2 linked regions of the Homo sapiens genome follow. The protein of the gene in region 2 interacts with the protein of the main gene of each other region in a biochemical or structural test. Each region holds a gene or a part of one and is shown on either strand. Other genes may lie near its edges. The genes, in order: ZFYVE27 and VAPA.

Region 1 (3,821 bases), on a different chromosome or scaffold from region 2:
AGTGAGCTGTGATTGCCCCACTGCCCTCTAGCCTGGGTGACAGAGGGAGGCCTTATCTCAAAAAAAAAGGAAAAAAAAAAAAGAAAAGGAAAGAAAGAACCTGCACTCCATGATGTGAATATCTATCTATAAAGCACTTGGAGCAGCATCTGACACAGGGTAAGCACTCAGTGAAGCATGGAGTAGCTGTTTTTATTACAATTATTATTATTGAACACTTCAGGGGAGTTAAGGCCTGGGAAATAGCAGGAACTACAACAGAGGCCAGCCCAGGAGCCAAAAACAAGCTGATAACAGGGGGGCCCACAAGCGGCCACAGCAGGCTCTGCCCTGACAGTGGCACTTACCTCCGTGGGTGTGAGGGCAGGCGTGCTGTCCATCAGACCATCCTTCCCCCCAACATCTGGTGGTGGAGGACTCTCAAAGGCATGCTCTTCCTGCTTTGGGTTCATCCTCTGCTGCAGAGATGCCCTGTACTCAGACACAACTACCCAGGGAATGGAGAACAAGGTAGGAGGCAAAAATGAGACACCGTGAGTGGCACTTTAGGGGTACCCACTTCTGCAGCTGGCTGGCCTCTCTTCCCTTCACTACAGGAAAGAGTCACCCTCCTAACTCTGAGCGAGTCACCTAACTTAAGCCTCTTAAACAAAACTTAGATACCACCACCTGCCCCAGACAGCTACAGAGATTAAATGTAGTAAATGCTCAATAAATCATGGCTTCTGTAATAAATAACTCTACCACAGGGAGGAAAACAAATACAGCAATCACCCAAACATATGTACAGACTCGGGCCTCTGCGACTCAGTGCCTCTCCAGACTGCCTCAGCGCTTTAGAAGCCAGACAACAGAGGGGTATTCTGGGATCACACAGAGATGTGGTAGCAACTCCAGGTGGCTGCACCCCAGGGGATGGGTGGCAGCTTTGGGAAAAACATCCTTCCCTCATCTTCCAGAAGCCATCATATCATATAAGCAGTGATTCATCTGCCTTGGGAAGGGAGCGAAGGGAGATGGGAGCCCAATGGTAGCAGCCTCCCCTGGTGAGATTCCAGCTTCATCTAACATCTCAGAGATGCAGAGCCCATGAGAGAGGACCCCAGTGTGGTGTTGCACTTGTGGAAGCACAGCAAACTGATGATTAGCTGTAGAGACAGAAGAACTGGGGAGCCTAGCCTAGCCCTCAGAGCCAGCTTGGGCCCCATCTTTCAGGCCCTTCAGGGCTTACCTCGGAAGAACTCCACATTCCCCAGAAAGAGCGTGCTGTTTAAAAGGGTGAGAACCCAGCAGAGTGGCAGCAAATACAGCATGCAGACTGTGCCCAGAAGAGCCCCATAGAACCTGGATGACAGGGAAGAACCACAAGATCAGAAATTCGTAACAGCAGAAGGAGACGGGTTTGGAGCACACCCACAGCAGGGTCCAGGTGAGACACAGCTCTGGGCACATTAATAAACTGACAAGAGCCGCTCATCAAACCAGCGGAAAATGGCGATGAAGACTGAGAACTATCCCAAGTCACCGGTGCAAACACCTGATGCTGGTGAGGCCAAAGTGGTGTCAGCTGGTGGCACATAAACTGGTTCAACCATCATCACTCCTTAAGGTCTAGACTCTGAAGTCTAGAGTAAGACAGACTGGGATTTGAATCCAGCTCTGCCACTTCTCATTCTGAGAAGTCTCTTGGTTCTCTGGGCACAGCTCCCTTCCCGTGTAAGATGGGGACTGAAGTAGCGCCTACCTAATAGAGTTACTATAAGAGTGAGATAATACAGAGGGAGTGTTGAGCAGTGCCTGGCACCAGGTGAACACAACAAACATTAGTTATCACTATTATTCATATTAAAGAGCCTCAAAAACACCCATTCTGTTTGATATGGTAGTTTCATCCTTGAATTTACTCCAAGAAAAATTTTCTAAAACATTAAAGCTAAATCCATAAAAATGTTTACCATGGGGTTAGTAATGAAAAGGGAAATTGACTAAATCTGTAACAGAATGGTTTCACAAATTATATTTGCCATCTATATTAATCTGGTATTATAAATAATTCCAAAAGCTATATAGCAACAAAGAAAATCATCTTTAATATAATGATAAGTGGAAAACAAAAGAAAAATTGAACATACACTATGAAACTATACATCCGTAAAGTAGATGCATGTGACAAATTCTAGCAGGCAAAACAAACAAGAGATTCGGCTGCATGGTGGATTATATGGTGAGTTATTTTTCTATTATTATTTTTACCACACATAAAAGCAAGCATCTAAACAAAAGCAGTACATTAGAGCCCGCAAGCATATGTGCAGATATACACACAAGAGCCCAGGAGGCGAGCTCTTCCCCTGAGGTAAGAGGGGCAGAGGTCCTCTCAAGGCAGCTGGCTTTGCTCGGGCTCAAGCTGCAAATTCCTATAGGGTGGTGGCGGGAGAGGAGGGGTCACTCACTGTGAGGACACGACGGGGTTCTCCCAGTGCAGCACGCGGTAGGCGGCTTCACATGTGCAGCACAGGCGGCTCAGGAAGGCCTCCAGCTGGATCAAGCTACAGACACAGGGGCTTTGGTGAGTGGGCAGGACAGAAGCCCTGGGAAGTGGAGCCTGGGGCCTTGCAGGTACAGTTGGCTAGGGATGGTCAATCTCTTTAAACACACTCACCATGTGCTTAAAGAGAGAGGAGTCGAGAGAGCATGGGAGAAACAGGCCTGGCTAAGCCACCCCAGCTACATTTCAGTCCCCTTTTTGGAGCCTCTTGCTGAGGTGGAAACAGTATAAATGTTCCTGCTTTGGTCTTCTAACTGTTGATGTCAGGCAGGCTACTGAAATTCTCCAGGGCTGTGGCTTCTTTATCTATAAAATGAGGATCAGAGGACCCACCTCACGGGTACACAGCAGCTGTCAGAATAAATGGCATGATATTCTCTACCTGGGATGTGAAACAGACTCACTTGGGGAGTTCTGGTTGTTGTTTTTTTAAACATGGATGAACCACAGAAGCCATGAGCACAATCTGAACCCAGATCTGGGTTTCTGAAGGGAAACCAGGAAACATGGAGATAAGCTGATTCCAGGGCTGGGGCAGGGAAGTATAAGATGAATTTGACCATCCTGTTGTACCATAAAGGAAGCATTCAAAAATGACAGGGACCAATGCAAACAAGAGCCAACTCAAAAGAGCTCCTACTGGCCAAATCTAGGACAATTTGAGATCAAAATAAATAATGATAGTAATAGATTCTAACTCATCAAATAAAATATAAATCTATGAGTTCATACTGATAATAGTAAGAAAGAGCTTCCTTATAGTAGAAAGCCAGCTAAAAAAATGTCGATAGAATAATTAGAAGATCATCTTTGCAACCATCATAGTAATAAACTGATTAAGGCAAGACCCATCAATGGATTTTTAAAGCAGTGGATAAATGTTTGATGAGGAACAAGATATTTACATAGTCTCAAAGTATCTCCCCTCAAATTACTACTAATGAAGAGTAAAATGATAATTTACAGTATGGATGCCTTAACCAAGTGATCAAAGTCAGTATTTCCTGACATCAGGTGCCTCCTGATACGGATGTACTGAACATGACACATCACTTGTCACACTCTAAATCTGATCACAAGGAACCAAACAATCCAAAAATTAGGGAGATTCTACAAAATAATAAGCTTGTACTATTCAAAAATGTCAAGGTCACAAGAAACAAGGACTGAGGAACTGCTCCAGATTAAAGAAGACTAAAGAGACATAAAAAAATTAAACATGATGTATAATCCTGAATTGGATCCCAGATCAGGGAAACTGATACAAAGAACT
Region 2 (3,821 bases):
ATAGAAATTATTTCCCTAACTTTAGATTATTTCTAAGATATATCTCTACACTTTCAAAAAGATAAACACGGGTAAATAAATGTAAGAAATAATTATGTAATAAAGTCTTATTCATAAGGTGTGTCTGAGAAGTCCATTAACTGCTATCAAGGTTAAGACAACTTTTTCAAGGGGCCAAATACACAGCAGCAGGAAATGTACTGGATAAAATGCCTCAGAATACAGCTTAAGCTAAATAAAATTCCATTAGCAACCTTCACTGAGTTAATGATTATAAGCTAATCACTATGAACCAAAAATTTGTGAATAAAACGAAAACTTACAACATGGTTAAGTTTATAGGAGTTATACTCTAATTTAGGTTGCAGACCACATAACAAGACAAAGACGATCTTGAAAACATATATAAAAATGTGCACAAATTGAAGCAAATTCAAAAAACAAAGCGTCAAAAGGACACAGGGAAAAAGAGAAATGAGCATGTAGTACAGAGAATTAACCAGAGAAGGTTGTTGGAAGAAGCATAGCTTTGAGTGACTGTAAATGGAAATACACTACACTAAAAACTGGAAAAGCCAAATTCTAATTAAGTAGAACAATCCAAGGGCATGTTTGCGTAATCAGTAACCAGTTTGTCTGAAGGTTTTAATAAGTCAGGTTTCTGTGGGAGAAAGTGTTTTGATACGTTGTTTTCTCAAGAAATATTAATACACAGAAACCAGCAATCTAGGCCCCTCAAAGAAAAAGTCATTCTGCATAGTTGTATGGATTCCTAGGGATATAACTGTTTGTACCAATAAACTATTTTTAGCCATGTGGATTGAAATAATTATATCTTCTGGCCAGGCGCAGTGGCTCACGCCTGTAATCCCAGCATTTGGGGAGGCTAAGGTAGATGGATCACTTGAGGTCAGGAGTTCGAGACCAGCCTGGCCAACATGGTGAAACCCTGCCTCTACTAAAAATACAAAAATGAGCCAGGCATGTTGGCACACGCCCGTAATCCTAGCTACTCAAGTGGCTGAGGCAGGAAAATCACTTGAATCCAGGAGGCGGAAGTTGCAGTCACCTGAGATCACACCACTGCTCTCCTACCTGGGCAACAAAGCAAGACACTGTCTCAAAAAAGAAAGAATTCTCTCTTCTTCCAATTGTGCTAAAGGCTTAAAGATGTAGTAGAAAGCAGCAACATGCAGAGTGCATGCATTCCTTCATCTTTATTTCCCATCTCTCTTTCCCAGGAACTGATGAATTAGACTTAGCAAAGAAACATGAAAAGCACTCCTCCCAGGCCTCCTTACCGCAAGACTCACTAAAACATCTTTTTCCTAGCTCTTGAGGTTTTTGGCTATACCTGCTGAGGGAAGATTTAGTGTCACCAAGAACTCTATGGTCTGTCCTTCATGGCCTTTGTAGTCAGGCTCCACCTCTAAATACTCTCTCAATGAGCCTACCCTGGGTTCTCTCTCTCTGTACCCAATTCTGCTGTGGACTTGAAAACTGATACAGAATTATTATAATATCTTAGGATTACTTATCAAGATCACCCAGGCTTTTTTTTTTTTTAAGGTACACTTTTTTTGTTTGTTTGTTTTGAGACGGAGTCTTACTCGTGCAGTCTCCGCTCACTGCAACCTCCACTTCCTGGTTTTAAGCAATTCTCTGCCTCAGCCTCCCAAGTAGCTGGGACTACAGGCGCCCACCACCACACCCGACTAATTTTTTGTATTTTTAGTAGAGATGGGGTTTCACCATCTTGGCCAGGCTGGTCTTGAACTCCTGACGTCGTGATCCACCCGCCTCGGCCTCCCAAAGTGCTGGGATTACAGGCATAAGCCACCGCGCCCGGCCTAAATGTAACATTTCTAAGTCATGCTCCTAGAGATTCCAATCTGGGAGAGATGAATCCATGTGTGTTCCTGCTCCCTGTGTTATTACAGCATATAGTGGGAGTTGAGAAGTACTGCTGTAAAGAAAGAGTAAATGCAGCCTGAGAGGTTCTCCCCTAAGTAAAATACATGGAACCATAAAAGTTCTCATATTTACTTCCTATTTCCTATTTCTCAGCTATATTAGTGAAGTCAGAGGGACTGAGAAAGAAAGAAACAGTTTATAGGGGGCATTAGATATGGTACCAGTATCAACTCCACAGCAGGAGTAAGTAATCCATATATGGCAAGCATACTTCTTTGACAAGTAAACACATAAGAGAGTAGTAAAATAAAAATAAAGTTTTCACACACAGGACACTGTTGACATTTACAATGAAAGGCATAAAGACTCATCTGATTTGACACAGTAGGCAAAAAAGTGGCATTGCACCTTTTTAAGCAAAAGAATTATGACACTTCTATAGCTGCATGCAATGTGTAATATGATCATGATCTGAAGGAGAATGACCCATCAGAAAAATGATATAATTTTTCAAAGATAAAATAACAAAGGCAGAGAAGGTAGTGGTTAGCTGTAGAAATAAAGACTAAAGTTTGTAATTGACAATAATTTCTTATAAACTGACCACACTCCCTACACAGAAGATGAGTGAGAAATTTTCTGAAACAGCTTGCAGAGTACTGTAACAAGACATCTTTAAAGGCAAAACCAGAATAATATAAGAATTATTTCCCTCCCTCCAGATGAAACCTTATTAAACAAAAACATAATCATAAAAGGTCAAAATTCAAATGTACATAAATTCAGAACATGATTTGCTACCTGAAACAGTCACAGTTGACCCTGGGTCAATAATTCCACTGTTGGGCCTCACACAGTACCGGCGAGGTGCTGTAGTCTTCACTTTGAAACACACTTTTCTATCCGATGGATTTCGCAATTTAAGATTTGTAGTGACTACATCTGTGAAGGGGCCTGTAAAGTTTAAAAATTAAAGAGAAAACAAAATTTAATTGGATTCTCAACAACGAAGGATTCAAAACTGAAAATATATAACCTCAATTTTAATTAAGTGCTGACATTTGTAGGCATAAATATCCCAAATGGCTACTAACACTGCCTTTCTCGAGGTGGCAGACTTAAAAACAAGTCATATTTTCTTCTTCATTCCCTGTATTTCACAAAATTTCTACCATAAACATGTATGATTTCTATCAAAAAAGTACTATGAAACTTTGGATCTATGAACTTTACAACTGTATTTTTACAGTATGTTGTTAATACGTTGCTGAAAATAACAGAATTTCCCAGTTGTCTGCAAACCAGTGTCAATCTTCAAGTTCATTTTACTAGGCCAACTGCAAAAATCTCTACATCTGAAGACCCTACACCCTATGACATCAGTGCTTTTGCTTCACCTCAATTTTGTTTGTTCATTCATTCAATCCATTCATTCATTCACATATTTGTTAAGTGTTTATTATGCCATATGCTCTAGATACAAAGTTTTTAAGCTTTGGTTCTGCACCCAAACAACATAAAATTACAAAACAAAGAACCCAAAAGGCTGATCCATTTTGCTGAAGAAAAGCCTGAAGAAAAATTATGCAGATTAATTTAGACAACAAAATAAATACCTGTTAATTTGGAGGAAGAACATAAAAACATGTTCCAGTTGGGAACAATAACCACAGTTCTAAGTATTCCAAAAGTAATTTTAAATCGTTCTAAAAACAATTCGTTTAAAGTTATGTATTTTTTAAAAAAGCTAGAAGGCTGGAATCAAAGACAACTATTATAAAGGCTCTCTTTTCTTTATTTCAATCTTAAGAATAAGCATGTCTTTTAAAATTTTACAAAGTCATTAAAAGACACTTATTTCAAGCCCTAAGAAGCAAAATGATTTTATGCTATGCTTAAAGTTTGTT

What was found.
Region 1: the proteins of VAPA (region 2) and ZFYVE27 form a complex in vitro, tested with the Homo sapiens proteins (one study listed by IntAct).

The regions. Positions count from the first base shown.
Region 1 is NC_000010.11:97,746,997-97,750,817, reverse strand, and holds part of ZFYVE27 (protrudin), read right to left. Parts: intron 2,550-3,821; coding exon 2,454-2,549; intron 1,345-2,453; coding exon 1,232-1,344; intron 488-1,231; coding exon 348-487; intron 1-347. UniProt on the Homo sapiens protein: Key regulator of RAB11-dependent vesicular trafficking during neurite extension through polarized membrane transport. Promotes axonal elongation and contributes to the establishment of neuronal cell polarity.
Region 2 is NC_000018.10:9,930,857-9,934,677, reverse strand, and holds part of VAPA (vesicle-associated membrane protein-associated protein A), read right to left. Parts: intron 2,869-3,821; coding exon 2,716-2,868; intron 1-2,715. UniProt on the Homo sapiens protein: Endoplasmic reticulum (ER)-anchored protein that mediates the formation of contact sites between the ER and endosomes via interaction with FFAT motif-containing proteins such as STARD3 or WDR44.